Regions from separate parts of the Homo sapiens genome. Here all the other regions are reported to be linked to region 3. Evidence: microRNA targets listed by miRTarBase, many of them from high-throughput screens and not tested one by one. Region 3 holds a microRNA gene; each other region holds the end of a gene's coding sequence.

Region 1 (4,058 bases), not on the chromosome of region 3:
GATCCACGCAGGGAAGTGGTTAAGACATGACGGCGCATCCACACACTGGAAAGCTGTGCATCATTGAAAATGACGGCAGCGAATAGTGGCAACACGTAGACTATCAACCCTTCATAAGCGTGCCATCACATTTGGATCAACAGGTAAAATTCATTTGCCCTCCCAGAACACGTACTCTTGTGGAAATGGAACACGAAGCTGATTGGATCATCAGGCAGTGTAGAGGCCATCTTGCTGTTAGGAAGAGATAAAATCTCAGAATAAAGCCCAGACTGTGCTAAACTTTGCTTTTTGAGGATATAAGAGTGCATAGAGGGGAGCCGTAAACAGCTCTACTGCTTGGAACATGGTTCCAAACGGGGATGGAGCAAAAAGTGGGACAATGGTTTTGAGAGTGAAAGACATTGCTATACTTATTGTCATCTTTTTAGTAGCTAAGTGTCCTTTTATCTCTTCAAACATGCCACAAAAATTATAGGACTCGAAAGTGTGTTGTGAACACAAAGGATATTGAAATCATTGGCACAGAGAAATAATGACACAGAAAGACAGTTTGATGTTATATAAAAGATGCCACTTGTAAAGCAGCAGGTACAATATAATCCCATTCTTGTAATAAAATTGAAAACTTAATTTAGTTAATTTTAAGCCATGAATATAAAGATCATTTGGAGTATGCCATTGAGGAATATTAAAAAGATGCATCATTTTAATTACACAGTTTAGTCTCTCTAAATAGTCCCACATCGACAAAAAAAAATAAGTGTATTATCAGTTGGAAAATATAACACTTTTTATAAGGAAATGCAGAGAAAATCCTATTCTTTTTATGAAAAGGATATGCAGGCAGAGAAAACTAATTGGAGGACAGGGATAAAAATTGGGATGTACAGTGCTTAGATGGGAGTAGGGGTAATTCTTATTTTTCTTCATCTTATTGTGTTTTTTTTCAAACTGCCATAATAAACATGTACTTCATGTTGAAAAAATTAATAAAAGTTATAGTTTTAAAAACATGAAGGGCCACACTCATGCATGCATATGCACACACACACACACACACACACACACACTCCAACCCAACCCAAAGTGGTGCAAGACTATATATTCATATACTTTCTGTCAGTGCCGGCAAATGCTCTTGCCACCTCGCTGCATTCATTCAGTTTTCTTGGGGATAAACAGTCTCTGAAATTGTAGAATCTTCTCCCATACAAACACAGGAAATCCCTGCAGGCTCTTCACCTCCCCAGTTCTGTTAGGAGGTAGGCAGCTGCTATGTAGCATTATTCTTCATGGCCAGAGGTAGTACCAAGATAGGGATTCAGCTGCTCTGTTCTTCCACTCTGCAAATCTTCTGCAAGCACGTGAGCAGGCCAGGGAGGGGCTGCCGCCATTTGGTGGTGAAGACACTCTGCTTGTGAAGGGCAACAAGTCAGAGGTCTCTAAGGGCCCCCTCGGCCCTGTCTGTCTGGCCCATCGTGGGCTTGTTCTTCACTAATTGTCTCTCACTGCTGACAGAGCCCACGAGTGTCTTTATGCGTGACAGATTCCTTGCAAATGGTGAATGGCGGAAAGATGACCCAGCTAATCATCAGACCTGCTTCTAAAATGCCATCTAGTCAGACGCAGCAGAGCCCAGCTCTACTCACTCATCCATGAATGTGACTCTGAGCTGTGAGAACAAAAGCCAAAGCAACTCTCTATTAGGAAACCCAGGGGGAAGACAGCAATGTAATAAGTCCCAGGTTCAAAATGACAAGTGATTCACTGAAGATGCCACAGCAGTACAGTCTATCACTGGGCACAGTGATATGGCCAAAAGCATGAGAATTTTATAAGATAATGAATTATTGGCTGGGCTACAAAATGAAAAATTTGAACTGATAAGGCCAGTAGACTATCCTTTTGAACCGAATTCACTGGAAGAATAAACTGTGGCATAGCAGCTCTTTTTTAGTAACAGGAATATGGTTACAAGATGCCTGAAAGGATGTTATCCACACACTATTGTCATCTTTTTAAGTACCCACTTCGTGCTCAATTCTACCATTCCATAAATTTATTCTTGGAATGGAGAGAAATAAAAAACATGATTTTTTTCTCCCTTTTGAAAAATCCTGAGTTATGTTAGAATTAGGAAACAGATTCCGTAATTATTAAGAAGGATAGATCACAGACTGGCCCCATTGTAAAGTTTATAAAATCAAATCCCATTTTAAAGCTTAGTAAGAAATGTGGCAATAGTAGCTCCTCCCACAGTGCCCTCAGCTTTCAGCCACTATTCAGCTTTGCCTGTGGTCTAACCATACCTTCAGCCACAGTGGCGGCAAATTAACAGCTACCATTTCCTGAAAGCTGACAATGAGCTGCATCTGGATGTGCTGTTGGCGGACATTATTGCTTTAATCATCACAAAGACCTCAGAGGTGAGTACAATCATTTCCCCATTCTGCCAATGAGGAAACTGAGGTGTAGAGAGGGTAAGTAACTTGTCCAAGGCCATACACCTAGTAGGCGGGGAGCAGGATTCAAGCTTCTTCAATGAGCATGCAAGAGAGAAGGGGAGGAGCCCTGTGGAGCAGTTGGAAAGGCTCAGGAGCCGGCACCCAACCTCATTCACCCTGGGCCAATCACTCAATCTCTGTACAGAAGGAGGTGAACCACCTTGCCCACTGCCCCACAGCATTGCTGAGAGGTCCAAATGAGATCACATACAGGAAAAGCCGTGAAAACAGTAAAGCATTCTATAAACACCATGTGCTATTGATAAAAGGACAGAAGACTAAATCATACTCCTTAGGAGCACAACACTTCAGTCATTCTGGCTTCAATGGAAAGACCACACCCCCTCTCGTCCCCTGACTTAATGCTTTCAATAAACAGCACAGGATTTTCTCGAGCGATCTTTTAAAGATGAAGGGCTCGGGTATGCATGCTGGTCCTTGAACTGGTCTTTGCAGGGAGCTTTAGTGTCTTACAATATTTAATACAGACATCCTGCCTGAGCTATTTATCCTGACTTGGGAAAGTAACCATTTCACTGTTACTATTAATTCTGTTCCAAAAAGAAAAAAAAGACTATTGTAATTTTACACCCTTAATCTATGCAACACAGGAATGAGAAAGAAAAAAAAAAACCCAACACGGTACTTTCTCATGAGTGAGGCACATTATATATAGTAATTCGCATTTTATTATTTTATCATTATGAATAGTAAAGTCCACAGTTCAGTCCTCAGACAACATTCAGGTAAATGTTTTACATATGAGACACCTGCCTGTAATGTGATGACATGAGATATATATATGGATATATATATATATGGATATATATTTTGAACCACTGTGATTTACTAGTCTATTAAAATGCCATTACACATTTAAAAACTGAACAATTACAACAATGCAATCTTCAAGCAATTAAAAACAAAGAATTGTTGAGCCAACATGGGAGATCTGCTGAGTAATCTGGCCTTTCAAGTAATGTCTAGTGGAAACCCTGTTTTCTCCTTCCATCTGAAGATCATCAAAAATAAAAAACAAACCTACACAAAAAACCACCTGCTCTGAGTGAAAGTCAGGATTCAGCCCACATGACTCAGGGACACACTCCCCAGCGGTTGCTGGAGGCACCATCACTCCAACATGTGCAGGAGCAGCGAGGGGTCCACCTCCACAGCCCGCAGCCCGTTGTGCAGGCTCTGGAAGGTGGCCTGCTTCCCGAAGCGCTGCCGCCAACGGATGAAGGCCTCCACCACCTGCGACTGCACGTTGTGGGGGTGGTTGGCCTTACAGCGGTAGATATCCGTCTGGGACAGTCCCAGAGACAGCACCATGGGCTCCCACTCAGGGCCCAGCCTCTGGGCCAGCTGGTTAATCTGCCGGTCTGATGGGGAGCTGTTGAGGATGTGCGAGGGGATCCCAGTCAATCTGTCACCTGAGGAGGAAAAAGACACCCCGGTGAAATGAGCAAGGCAACAAACACATCATTTGGGGGCAGAAATGAGAATCGTGGGGAGAAGAAGGCAATGCTTCCAAATGGCAGAGCCAATTGG
Region 2 (4,058 bases), not on the chromosome of region 3:
AGGAATATATTTATATATTTCCTCTAATTTCATATAGATCAGGGGAGCCTGTTGAGGAGTGTCAAATACTAATGGCTTATTCTCCTTGGATTTCAGATTCAAGGCCTCTTCCAGATGTAGCCCTGACTGGGAAGTGCACTCGTGAGTGTGATGAGTATGGCCACTCAGACTCCTGCTGGATGCCGGTCCGCACTTCTCCGGAGAGGAAGAAGAGCCAGCCTAAACTGTCCACTTTCATGCCTGTTGATGAACGAGGAAGCCAGGAAAAGCTGGCCAATGGGGAGGCCGCCATCATGGGTGACCGCAACAGAAACCTCCTGAACAAAAAGTTGACCTCATCCTATGAGACCTTCAGTGCAGCTAGTTTCAGCAAAAATGAGGAAGCCAACCCTGAGGATATTCCCCTTACAAAAACAGGGGAATATAAGCCATCTCCTGTCAATACTCTCACTAGAAGAGAAGTTTACCTGTAGGCTATAAAGGAGCAACAGCAAAGTTCTTTACATGTATGAAAAGGAGAATAAGGGGCAAAAACCTTACAAAGCAAAACGTTTAATCACAAAGAGGGGGCTACCAAAGAGACAAAGCTTTGCCTGCCACTTCTGCCTCCAGATCAGGCCTTTAGTGATACTGTTAGCCTGATTCTACTGTACAATGTAGAAACCATCCTTGTTACTTGCATGTCTAACCCCTTCACTGATTCCCAACACTCACTTTCTCTTCCCCACCCCTCTCCAAAAAAAAAAAAACAAAAAGAAAAGAAAAAAAAAGGGGGATAGTTGCAAGTTTCTTTCACAGTAACTGTACGAAGCCTGATTAGCAGAACACAACACACCCTCATTATCCCTAAGCTGAAGCATGATTTTAGTCACTTTGATTTTGTTCGAGTGTCATCTGGCTGGTCAAAAATAAGCAGGACAGATAAAATGTATTTCAGACATACCATCAGAAAATGGTTTATCACCATCAAAGGCAATCCTTTGAAAGTGATAGAGTCCCTCTAAAGGTACAGTCCTTAGAAAGAGGGACTGTATTAAAAAGTATTTTGGGAATATCAAAGCTTTAATATTCCAACAAAGACTAAGAGAAAAACAATACTCAGTGGGTGATTGCAGTCCTAAATTGTCATATGTTGTTATTTTCAGGTCAAGAGCATCAACTTCAATTCCATACATTCACCAAATATTCTCAGTATACACACAGTCTTGATTACATGTATCAATTTCACCAGTTATGACTTCTAAAAATTATATATATTTTTTCAGAACAAGACCACTATTATTAACTAACTTGAACAATTGTATCATCCAAAGGCCAAAGATCATATGGCAGATCAGGGAAGTCATGAAGTTGATTTGGTCTTGACGTGGAAAACCATTAAACAACAAAAGCAACTGAACCCATGTATGCACAGAAACAATCAAACACTAGTTCATTTTATAGTGCCCAGGAAAATGTTCCTTCTTTTAAAATGGATTTTATTTGAAAGCGCAGAAAATGAAAACTAGTGAGATATATTTTTGGTATTATAATAGGCAATTGGTTGAGGTTCAAGTTTAGTTTCAGGTAATATTATCAGGGAAGATTCCATGTTTTAAAATAGTATTTATGGATCATGGGTAGGTTAAGAAAGATGCATTGGCATATAGTCTTGATAGTTAAGTCCACGATTATCATTTTAGAATCCAGGCTATGCTTGCTGCTCTTTTTATCCACATTTTAAATTACAATTGCATTTTTTACTTGTTCAGTGCACACTTTGATGCACCACAAGTGCATTAATTTTGAATCGTGTGCAATATAGAAATATTTTGAGACTCACAACATTGAAACAAGGTGACACCCTAGTTGACTTTATCACTAATGTGATTTGAACATTATTTAAACAAATCTAGACTGAACATGAAAGAAAGGAGTTTTGGGCAGTGACATTTTTCACAGAATGTATATCTCAAAGGTGAAAGCAGAGTTTTTCCAGTGCAATAAAAAGAAACAGAATATGCAGATTTTGAGCTACTCACTCTATAGAGGATAACCTAACACGGCTGAAAATTGAGCTGGGACATTCAGACGAAAGTGACAATCCATGGACAGAATAGGGAATAACAGGTGTGAAGAGAACAAACTTATCACTGAATGTTTGCAAGCTGGTTAAGGCATAGCCTTGATGGCTCTCTAGCAAACTGTAGAAACAATGTAGCTTTGGGTAGTTTCATGCTTTGCAGAATTTCTTAGACTATAAAGTGACACAGCCTGGAATATAGGTTGATAATTCACTATAGGTCTTCAAAATACTTATCTTTGAAAACCGCTTCTCTGTTTGGTGGGGTACAATTTGGGGGTCATTTCCTTATGCTCTTTCTTAAATGGAGTTTTCATTTTGATGTTAGTTTATGTATAATAGGTAGGATGCAAAAAGATATGTAATTGAAACAAAAAACATTGGACTAAAATATCAGTAATTGAACATGTTTATGTTTGATTATTATTTACACTATGGAAAGATGCAATTCTAGTACTTTGTTAGGAAACTGCATTAAAGCAGTTCTGCCTTGTATAATCTGTAAGTACCTATTAAGACAAAATACTTCTAAAGATACTTATGAAATGTATACACATTTTTTCTTGCACGTTACAAAGAAAATACTCAATTGCATAACACGGATGTTTGACAAACTTTTTTTTTTTTAATGCATTTCTTTCTTTCATGAGACATTGAAACCACTGATAGCTCATTTCACCCTATCTTAAACCCTTCTCTTGTCTATAAAACTAATACGGGTCACACCGGACCTTCGGATTAATTGGATCCACATTCCCCAATGATGTTTGCACCCCATTCAAGATAGCCATGCCATTGTCATTTAACTCGTGAACCTCTCTTTAAAACTAAAATGGATGTGAAAGAATAAAATTCAGTGTACTGTAAGTATTCACAGTAATTCTAGTAGAATTAGCTGTCATAACATGTTTATTATATAATGAGCTGGCATGACACAGAAATATATTTTGTGTTTGTATGACTTTTATTTTAAATAGGTTAAATCTGGTGCCACTCCATATATAGAGTGCTTTTGAAAAAAAATCAATAAAAAGAAACAAAAAAAATAAATGAGTGAATGCAAAATAAGCAACTGTGCCTTTTATACCTGTTGTTACGGTAAAAAAACGGTTGTTGGGTTTGGACAATGAGGGGAAATGGGCTATTCCCAACTTTTTTGATCCTGTATATTTGTCCATGTTTATTTTCTGAACATAATAAATAATATATTAAAAATTTGCCTTCTGACAAACTCAGATAATGGACCAGTCTTAAATATTGTTATGTCATAAAGCAAAGTTAAGGCATTAATATGGGCTGCTTAAATCTGACTAGAAGATGAAAGCGTTTATTGTAAGTGTAACACAGAGATACTATCAGGAGTGAAATCAGTCCATTTGGCAAGGTAAAATACTGATTTAGAGTTTTATTCTTTATTTCTTTTTTGTTGTGTTTCTTTCAGCTATGGTTTCATTTTGGTTGTACAGTATATAAACCATATTTGTTTTCTGTACACAAGACTCTCAAGTGAATTTTGCATGCATTATACATTAGGACACATTTATAAATTAATGAGTAACTATATAAATTTATGTGTATTAAAACGTCTGTAGCTTCAATCTAAAATCTACTGCTCTTTCTGAATCTCCAGATATCATTTCTGTATGGTTTCTGACTGGCCTGCTGCCTGAGTTTCAGAAAACAAGGGAGGCATTATTTTTATGGGAGGAGGAACTAAGATGGTACTGAGGATGTCTGACTGAAACACTACCCTAGGAAGCTGTCTTGTAGGAAAATAGAATAAAACACACAGACCAGAAGAAATTGTCAAGAAGCAAACAGCCATCCAAAAACAGTCATGAGAAATCTAAAGACCTAAATAATCTTAGGTATATGCTCTCAGTGAGAAATAAGAAAATGTGTCCTTAAGCAAAAATAAATAAATAAATAAATAAATAAATAAATAATAAAAAGTGAGCATGATCATGAATATAGTAAATCTTGTGAGTTGTGACCT
Region 3 (4,068 bases):
TTTGATAAGCATAAGAAATCAATGCCTTAGTAACTAACAGTCCTTCACCATCGTGAGAAATGATGGATGGTTTAGCTGGTACACTCGACCTAAATTTCTTAATAGAACTCAGAGATAGCAGAAACCTCTTGTTAAGTATGGGAAAAAGTCTACTCCAACTTCTCTGCTTGGGTGGAATACAAGGACTTTTATTCATTCTACATGAGAATCCCAGAGTAAAAACTTGCTGGATGTGCTAACAAGCCTGAGAGCAAAGCAAGGTTTTCAGGGGTGGGGGGAATGCAGCTATGATCAGGTATGAGGCTGAGCCAGGAGGAAGAGACCTCTTCACGCAGCAACAAGGTACAGGATGTTCAGAATGCCAGAAAATTATTTCACATTATCATTTGGGAGTCTAAGACATATGATATGTGAACTAATTAATGAGCTGAGCACTGGGCCAGGTCACACTTGAAAAGGTCTGCGCCTAACAGCATCTGACATAAGGAAGGCAGGTCCTGAAGGCAATGCTAGACAAAGGGTCATTATCATTAAATCCATCAAGGGAAAGTTGAGAGTAGCATCCAGGAAAACACTGCCGAGGACTGGAAACCAACACACAGACAATCCTGTGTCAGAAATGTAGGGAGTACAGAAACATGAAAAAGGAAAAACTAGGGGGGAACAAACTAAAGTTTCTGAAGTAAGCGATATAATGATACTTTTTGGAAAGAACTCTAGTGGTGGTGTGGAGGGAGATCTGGACAGGAAGACTGAGGTAGAAATCCATGTTGCAAGAGTCTAAACCAGAGAAGACAAATGCCTAAAATAAAATATAATGTGGAGAAACTGTGGATTTACAAGACATGTCTGCGATAGATTAAAAGAATTTAATGCAAATTTTGCATGTGTATTGATTTTCCCAGGACCTGATCTTCTCTAGGTGAACAGTCAAAATTAAATTTCTCAAATCATATTTAGGATTAGAACCTTAAATAGTCAAGATTCCACTAAGATACCTAACATCGTGATAGTCAGTCAGAAAGAGCCAGCCATCTTTCAAAAATCCTAGTTATAAAATTCCTCCTTTTTTCTTCCATTGCAGCCTATGAAGTCCTTCCACATGTTATGCAATTTAATTCCCAAATGACTCATAATTGTTTTAATGGGTGAGAAAATTGAGGCTCAGAAAGATGTGGTAATGTTTCCAAGATCAAGCATCTCTAAATGGTAGATCCAGGACTCAAAACCAAAGTCCAGGTCTCTTTCCACTACATTGTATCAGAAAAGTCCATATAAGACTTAGTAGCTCTCACAGGAGAACTCTAGACCAGACGTGTGGATAGGTTATTATCAACTTGTGTGCCAGGAGCTGTGATAAATAAGTAAAACACAGACAGCTCTTAAGGAACTTAGAGCTTTGTAAGGGAGTTGAACAAGTAAACCATTTCTGTTCTATAAACCCAGATATGCACTATTTAAAAATTATTTTGCCCATTTTTTTGACTTTTAGAAAATTATTTTTAGTTTTGTTGAAGTACATGCCCATAACTTAAAAAGTCAAGTAATGCTAAAAGACTTGTCTTTTAAAATACTCAACTTTTCCCTGCTTAACAGCCTTCTCTATCTCTCCAGAAGAATCACTTTTAGCTTTTAATCTTTTTTCTTCTGATATTTACCTCCATATATCTAAACAATATGGATATACTGCTCTCTCTAGCTACTTTTAGACAGTGTTTATTATGGGAAGATGAAGAATGTTAAATCTCTATCACCACTTGCTATCTCTCCGCCCTTGCAATATAATCAAAGCACAAAAAAACTATAGTGAAGTCCATGCTTACTATTTTTAGTATACTGCCTTAATAACACTCATTCCTGAGTTAAGAATGTATTATTTTATTTCCTTCTTGAACAACTCGCTTTTCTAAAACTAATACCTCATTTATTTTCACTTTTTAACTTTCTGGAATCTCCTGATAAATATTCCCACATCTTGTCATAGTTCTATAAATTCCACTCAGTTCAATTTTCTACATGCATCTATCAGATAATCTATTATTTAACATTTTTAACTTTCTTGGAGGTGAAAATTCTCCTTTCCTTGCTTCAGTATAATTGTTCTCTGCATGGCTGCCCAAGTGTCATCCTAGGCATTACCTTTACCTTATTTCTATTTTGAATCTCCTATTTCCTGGACCATATGTAGTCCTTTTTCTTTGCTAACTCCATCATTTTTATGGAGCCCACCTTCCTACAGCTTTCTGGGAACAGGGAGTATAAGATCTATTTTGGCCCAGCATGGTGGCTCATGCCTGTAATCCCAGCACTTTGGGAGGCAGAGGCAGGTGGATCACCTGAGGTCAGGAGTTCGAGACCAGCCTGACCAATATGATGAAACCCCATCTCTACTAAAAATACAAAAATTGGCTGGGTGTGGTAGCAGGCACCTGTAATCCCAGCTACTCAGGAGGCTGAGGCAGGAGAATCACTTGAACCCAGAAGACGGAGGTTATAGTAAGCCAAGATCGTACCATTGCACTATAGCCTGGGCAACAAGAGCAAAACTCCATCTCAAAAAAAAAAAAAAAAAAAAAAAAAAAGATCTATTTTATAACATCCTGCTCTTTCCATTCTACTATAAAAATTAATTATTTAAATGTTTACCTAAGTTTAATACTTTTAAAAGTATACATATTATCTTTACTTACATCTTGATTCTGATTTAGAAGACCTCAGAGACTTCTTCCCATCACTCTTTGATGTAACTGATTTCTCCCCATCAGTATCCTGATCATCTGGTTCCTTCATTTCCTCTGTAAGTACAAAATGGGGATGAGATATGGATAAAGCTGTAAAATTGAAACTAACAGATTTCCCCCTAACATATTTCATTAGCACCAAACACCATGTGTGTCAATAATCCTTGTTTGCACAGGATCCAGGATGACCCACCAGTAGGAGGGTGCAACTACCACCAGAGACCTCTGACCTCTGCAAGACAGCTAATTATAATCACAGATTCTCTTTCTCTAGGTAAATTGTCATTGTGGTGCACTTTGGTTTTCCAGAGGTCCACTACCAAAGTTCATCTTTTCCCCAGATGCTTCACCATTAAAATTAACTTTCTGCCATCCTACCTTTGGTCCATCCCTCCCTCTTTCTCTATTTTCAAATTCCCTTGGAGTTACTAATCAATTTCAGTTTTTAAAATATTTTTTGAGCACACCTGCAGTGTATCAAGTCTTATGTTGGGTACTAAATTACAAACCTGGAGAAGAGAAATATGGTCCCTAACTTTATGGAGCTTGTTTATAAAGATAGATATTAAACAAGCAATTAAAAATAATGAGTGCTACAAAAAGGAAAATGGTACTGTGGGCATGTATAGCAAGAAGCCTAAAACATGATGGGGGGTTAGAGAAGAGGTGTTTGAGACATGGATGATGGTCAGGAGTTGGCCAGGCAAAGAATGTGAAAGATACATTAGGCACATCAAAGAGGGCTGCATCTTTAAAGGGCTGCAAGCAGTCTATTGGCCAGAGTGGGAGAGTAAAATGGATATTGAAGAGAAGGTGGGTACCATATCATAAAGTTGTCTCTAAGCTTTGCTAAGAAGTTTATACCTTATTTCCTTGACAACTGAAAACCATTAAAGGGTTTTAAAGAGGGGAGCGACACAACAGGTTTTCTCTGCCCTCTGTCTATAATGCAGCTTTTCATATATTTGAAAACACCTTCCTTCTAAGTCTTCACTTCTCTATACTAAACACCCTATGTTTCCTCAACATTCTTCTACGATATGCCTGGCAAGCAGAATGGAACACTAGTTCTATTTGGATCAGATTTATAGTTAGATTAGGGTTTGAATCCCAGTACTGACATATAACTAGCTAACTAAACTTTATATGAATTCCCCAACTGTAATGGGAATGAAGAAAAAACTTTTTACAAGCCTGCTATGAGGGTTACTTAAACTGCCACACTGTTATATCTTCCTGGTCTCTGAAGATAGACTGGTATGCCTAAAGCAGATATGGTACACTACACGATCAAAGGACAAAGGAGAGTGTAGTATGATGACTGTCT
Region 4 (4,058 bases), not on the chromosome of region 3:
AAAGAGGGTGACATACACACACTGTTAGCAGCAAAACGCAAAGGTGTCCAATGATTAAAATGAAATTGAGTGATAGGGAGAAATGGAGAAGATTCCAGAGTGTCAGGGATAGTAACTGAAAATAATTATATAGCACCCATTATTACTAATTTAAGATATATAAGCATCACTGCGGATTTATATAGTGTCTATGCTATTAGTTTAGTAAATATAAATATTTATGAGGGCTTTCAAAATATTTTAAATGACATATACATTCTAATATAAATATTACACTCCAGATTCATACAACTGAGTTGATGTTACATTTAAAGTAGTAGATTTGGGGTTGTATATGGAGTAACTTTTGCAGACCATTTTCTGAACTTTGATCATTCAGCTAAGTAAAGGCCAAAAAACACAGGAAGCATCTTATTGGGAACTTTGGCAGCAAACATGTTTTTATCTATGTATTTATGCATTATACAAAGATACACTTATTCATTTGTATAAATGAATTTAAAGTACTCCATAGGAGATCTTACACTTAAAACACTTTTCTGTCTTCTTATCTGCTTCTTTGAGATCAAGTCTATATGGGAGGCTTCTTCCTTAGAGGTGTGTGTTTAAAAATAGTCTCACGTTTCCCATTCAGGCTAAGTGGCTCTTTTAAGATTCCTAATCTTGAGGTTACAATCTTCACATTGAGACACTGATACACACACATACTTTAATAAAAACAGCAAATGGTCTTATATCACCTACTTTTAGCAGTGTGCTTTTAAAACAGGTTTGTTCCCAGCATTACAGAAAATAATCTCCAAACACATGCATTACTTTCTACTCAGGGAAGGATGTTACATCTAATGACTGTATAGAGTGATTTTGTAAATTAGTCTTATGCGCGTGTAAACTAAATGGGCTGCCCAACTTAACCCCAATGGTTAAAGGAAAGTAGTCTCGGCACTATGACATCACAGTTACACCTGTGCTCTCAGGTACAGGGCGAAAGTGAGAGCGAGAGCGCACGAGAGAGTTCAACCTGAGAGAGCTTTATAATTTCAAGCCTAGGCTGTCATTCACCTTTGCTTCATTTCTCCAAAACAAGCTCCTAATTTAGCTACCTGAAGAGACTGCTGCAGCAGTACAGTGAAAGCAGCCTTTTTTTGAAATAGGGTCTCACTCTGTTGCCCAGGCTGGAGTGCAGTGGTGTGATCTGTGCTCACTGCAACCTCAACCTCCCAGGTTCAAGTGAACCTCCCACCTCAGCCTTCTGAGTAGCTGGGACTACAGGTATGTACCACCACACCCAGCTAATTTTTTTTGTAGAGATGGGGTTTAGCCATGTTGCCCAGGCTGGTCTTGAACTCCTGGGCTTAAGCAATCCACCCACCTTGGCCCCCCAAAGTGCTGTGATTACATGTGTGAGCCACTGTGTCCAGTCGACAGTAGCCTTTTTACTGTGATGTCAATAAACCAACATCTGAAGATGACAGGAACTGGATTCAGAGTCTGTGTAAATTTTCTCAATGAGTGACCGAGCATGTAAATTTAACTCAAATGAAATTACTACAATAATTGCTTTAAAAACATATTTAGGAAAATGAGGTGACCCTAGATGAGCTTATTTATATGTCTCCTCTAACAGAAATCACCTCATGGTAAGAGTTGCTTCTTTTGGCTCAGTTCACCTGAGAACAACTTCATTTGGAACTTTTCTTAGCCATTTAACGTAACAGGAGACTGACTCAAAGTTGGTTCTAGTGGATGAAGCAAAATAGACATGACCAGCATGGCCAATCAATGAGCTTCATTCAACGGAGCGTCCTGGCCAAGTGCCACAGCCACGCTGGCCAGACACACTGACCAGTTACGCATTTCCCACCAGCCAAATGCCACTGTTTACTAAACCATGATTTCAGTAGGAAAAAGAGCTCTGGAATCAAGGCCCTCACTGCAGTACCTGGGTGGGGTGTCCATGGCCTGGCCTGTAGTAAACCCTCTGCCTTCCACTGTGTTCACGTTCGCAGCTCTGGCACTGGGGCATCTGGCACTTTTTTAAAAGAGATGTCTCTGCCTCTAGATGAACAATCTGGAACTTCAGAATACAGATCAAAGAATGAAGCAGATCTTTCAGTGGCCTCATCCTGTGGCACCTGCCCAGCCATTTAACTCCCCTGTCCTCCCACCCTACATAAAGTGTTTCCCACACCAGAGTGTGCACAACATGGTGACTCCAAATCCCAAGGAAGTTGAGTTTAGCTGGAGGTTAACCCCGTGCTCAGAAACCCATCTGTTATCTTTCCAGCTTCAGGTTTCAGAGCAGTTTATAAATGGCATAATACAAGGGTAATGTGAGTAAAATCTGAGAGTTTTGTTCATTATCAAGTTATCCACACAGTGCCCAATTAAGTAAGGTGATCTAGTGGAGTAATACTTCTGGCCTGGGAGAAAAATAAAACCAGTCAAATCACACCTTTCTCTAAAATGTCCCATTAAAAAAATATGGAATAGGCCGGGCGCGGTGGCTCACGCCTGTAATCCCAGCACTCTGGGAGGCCAAGGTGGGCGGATCACGAGGTCAGGAGATCGAGACCATCCTGGCTAACACAGTGAAACCCCATCTCTACTAAAAATACAAAAAAATTAGCTGGGCGCGGTGGCAGGTGCCTGTAGTCCCAGCTACTCGGGAGGCTGAGGCAGGAGAGTGGCGTGAATCCAGGAGGTGGAGTTTGCAGTGAGCTGAGAATGTGCCACTACACTCCAGCCTGGGCGACAGAGTGAAACTCCATCTCAAAAAAAAAAAAAATTATATGTATGTGTGTATGTATATATATGTATATATATATATATATGTATGTATGTATGTGTGTGTGTGTGTGTGTGTGTGTGTGTGTATATATGGAATAAAGTTTGAGATTCCCTGCTTTTTCATGTTACCTTAGCCTCAATTTTAAACTTACATTGTTTGTTAAAATTATCAAATGGACAACCTCATTGCTATGGAACAAAAAAGACTGTGAGGAAAAAGAATCATAACTTGGAAAAAAATAAGTGAAAAGGCATTGAGAGATTGCTAAGATTTGTTAAGTTAAAACAATAATATATCTAGAAAAGACTGTGAAAATATATATCTCAAAAGAGAACAAGGCATAGTCAGAAGGCTCAGTAAAACAATTACTTTAAAAGCTGACTAATAAAAAGGGTAAGTGAAAGAACTCTTCCATCCTTGACCCTTCCTCACTTCCTCCCTCCGACTCCACCAGTCTGGATGCACTAAAGCAGAATAACCTAAAAGCCATGAAAAAGTGCTGGTATTTTTCAGGATCTCTTCAAGACACCTTCCGTCTTGGTAACCTGAATTCTCTCTCTGATCAAGGCAGCTGATGGACTTTCAATGTATTTGGAGATGCCGGTTCAAAAACGTCATCATCATCTTCTGCTCCTTCTTCTATCGGTTTCATCTTGGCAGAGGCTCGCTGGTGTGGGGATGACACATCTGTGGAAAGATACAGGAGGGAAAACCACTGAATGCACAATCTACCCAGACCCTGGTGTGATATATCAATTATAAATTCCAACTGGAAAATAAAACTGTAGGAATCTATCACTAGCAGCACCAAGAACACAATTTCCATAAACCATTCTATTTCAATCCAGCATCTCAATAAAATAACCAAGTCAAGAAGAGACTCTCAGTCAGGAGCACAGATGAGGGACAGATTCCACCGCATGTGCTTGGATGATCTGAGCTTCTCAAATATATTCAGTTCCCAGGGGTTTGCCCCACAGTCTGCTTAGGACTCAGAACGCATGTTCCTACATTAATATCATACATGGGGGCTTGAGTCTCATATTAGCCCTTGAAAGTTGATTTAACTCCTAATTTCCCCAAAGAATACTTCTATTCCAAAATTATGGAACCTAATCACCATCTGTAATATCACCTAAAACATTTCTTGCCTCCACCATGGAGTCCAGCCACCCACTGGGCTTACACGCAAAGGAGACAGGGGAAGAGGAAGAAAGGCCAGGCATTCAGGAGGGACAAGCCAAGTAGAGGAAACGCAATCCCAGGC

The links. Region 3 holds the annotated microRNA hsa-miR-8076 (UAUAUGGACUUUUCUGAUACAAUG, at 1,254-1,277, opposite strand). A microRNA usually pairs through its seed, bases 2 to 8, with sites in the 3' UTR of a target mRNA and lowers its output. Matches are read on the target gene's strand: a 7mer-m8 pairs with bases 2 to 8, a 7mer-A1 pairs with bases 2 to 7 and ends in A, and an 8mer does both.
Region 1: the mRNA of CRADD is a reported target of hsa-miR-8076. Seed matches in the 3' UTR shown: 8mer at 3,323-3,330 and 8mer at 3,307-3,314.
Region 2: the mRNA of PCDH7 is a reported target of hsa-miR-8076. Seed matches in the 3' UTR shown: 8mer at 3,057-3,064.
Region 4: miRTarBase lists POPDC1 as a target of hsa-miR-8076. Seed matches in the 3' UTR shown: 8mer at 2,878-2,885, 7mer-m8 at 2,483-2,489, 7mer-A1 at 573-579 and 8mer at 332-339.

What each region holds. Positions count from the first base shown.
Region 1 is chr12:93,849,852-93,853,909 of GRCh38, reverse strand. CRADD (CARD and death domain containing adaptor protein) reads right to left here. Exons shown (of 3, transcript NM_003805.5): 3 at 3,154-3,940. The coding sequence ends at 3,639. Among named protein-coding and RNA genes, the nearest start is that of CRADD-AS1, 110 kb to the right of the region's middle.
Region 2 is chr4:31,142,377-31,146,434 of GRCh38, forward strand. It overlaps PCDH7 (protocadherin 7), which reads left to right. Exons shown (of 3, transcript NM_001173523.2): 3 at 97-4,058. The coding sequence ends at 473. Among named protein-coding and RNA genes, the nearest start is that of LINC02497, 27 kb to the right of the region's middle.
Region 3 is chr3:113,430,875-113,434,942 of GRCh38, forward strand. MIR8076 (microRNA 8076) reads right to left here and starts at 1,326; the gene lies at 1,244-1,326. CFAP44 (cilia and flagella associated protein 44) reads right to left here. Exons shown (of 35, transcript NM_001164496.2): 2 at 2,691-2,795. The coding sequence starts at 2,790. It overlaps SPICE1-CFAP44 (SPICE1-CFAP44 readthrough (NMD candidate)), which reads right to left. Exons shown (of 52, transcript NR_183050.1): 21 at 2,691-2,795. CFAP44-AS1 (CFAP44 antisense RNA 1) reads left to right here. Exons shown (of 6, transcript NR_046728.1): 5 at 2,709-2,797; 6 at 2,918-3,118.
Region 4 is chr6:105,097,736-105,101,793 of GRCh38, forward strand. POPDC1 (popeye domain cAMP effector 1) reads right to left here. Exons shown (of 8, transcript NM_001199563.2): 8 at 1-3,478. The coding sequence ends at 3,354. Among named protein-coding and RNA genes, the nearest start is that of POPDC1, 37 kb to the right of the region's middle.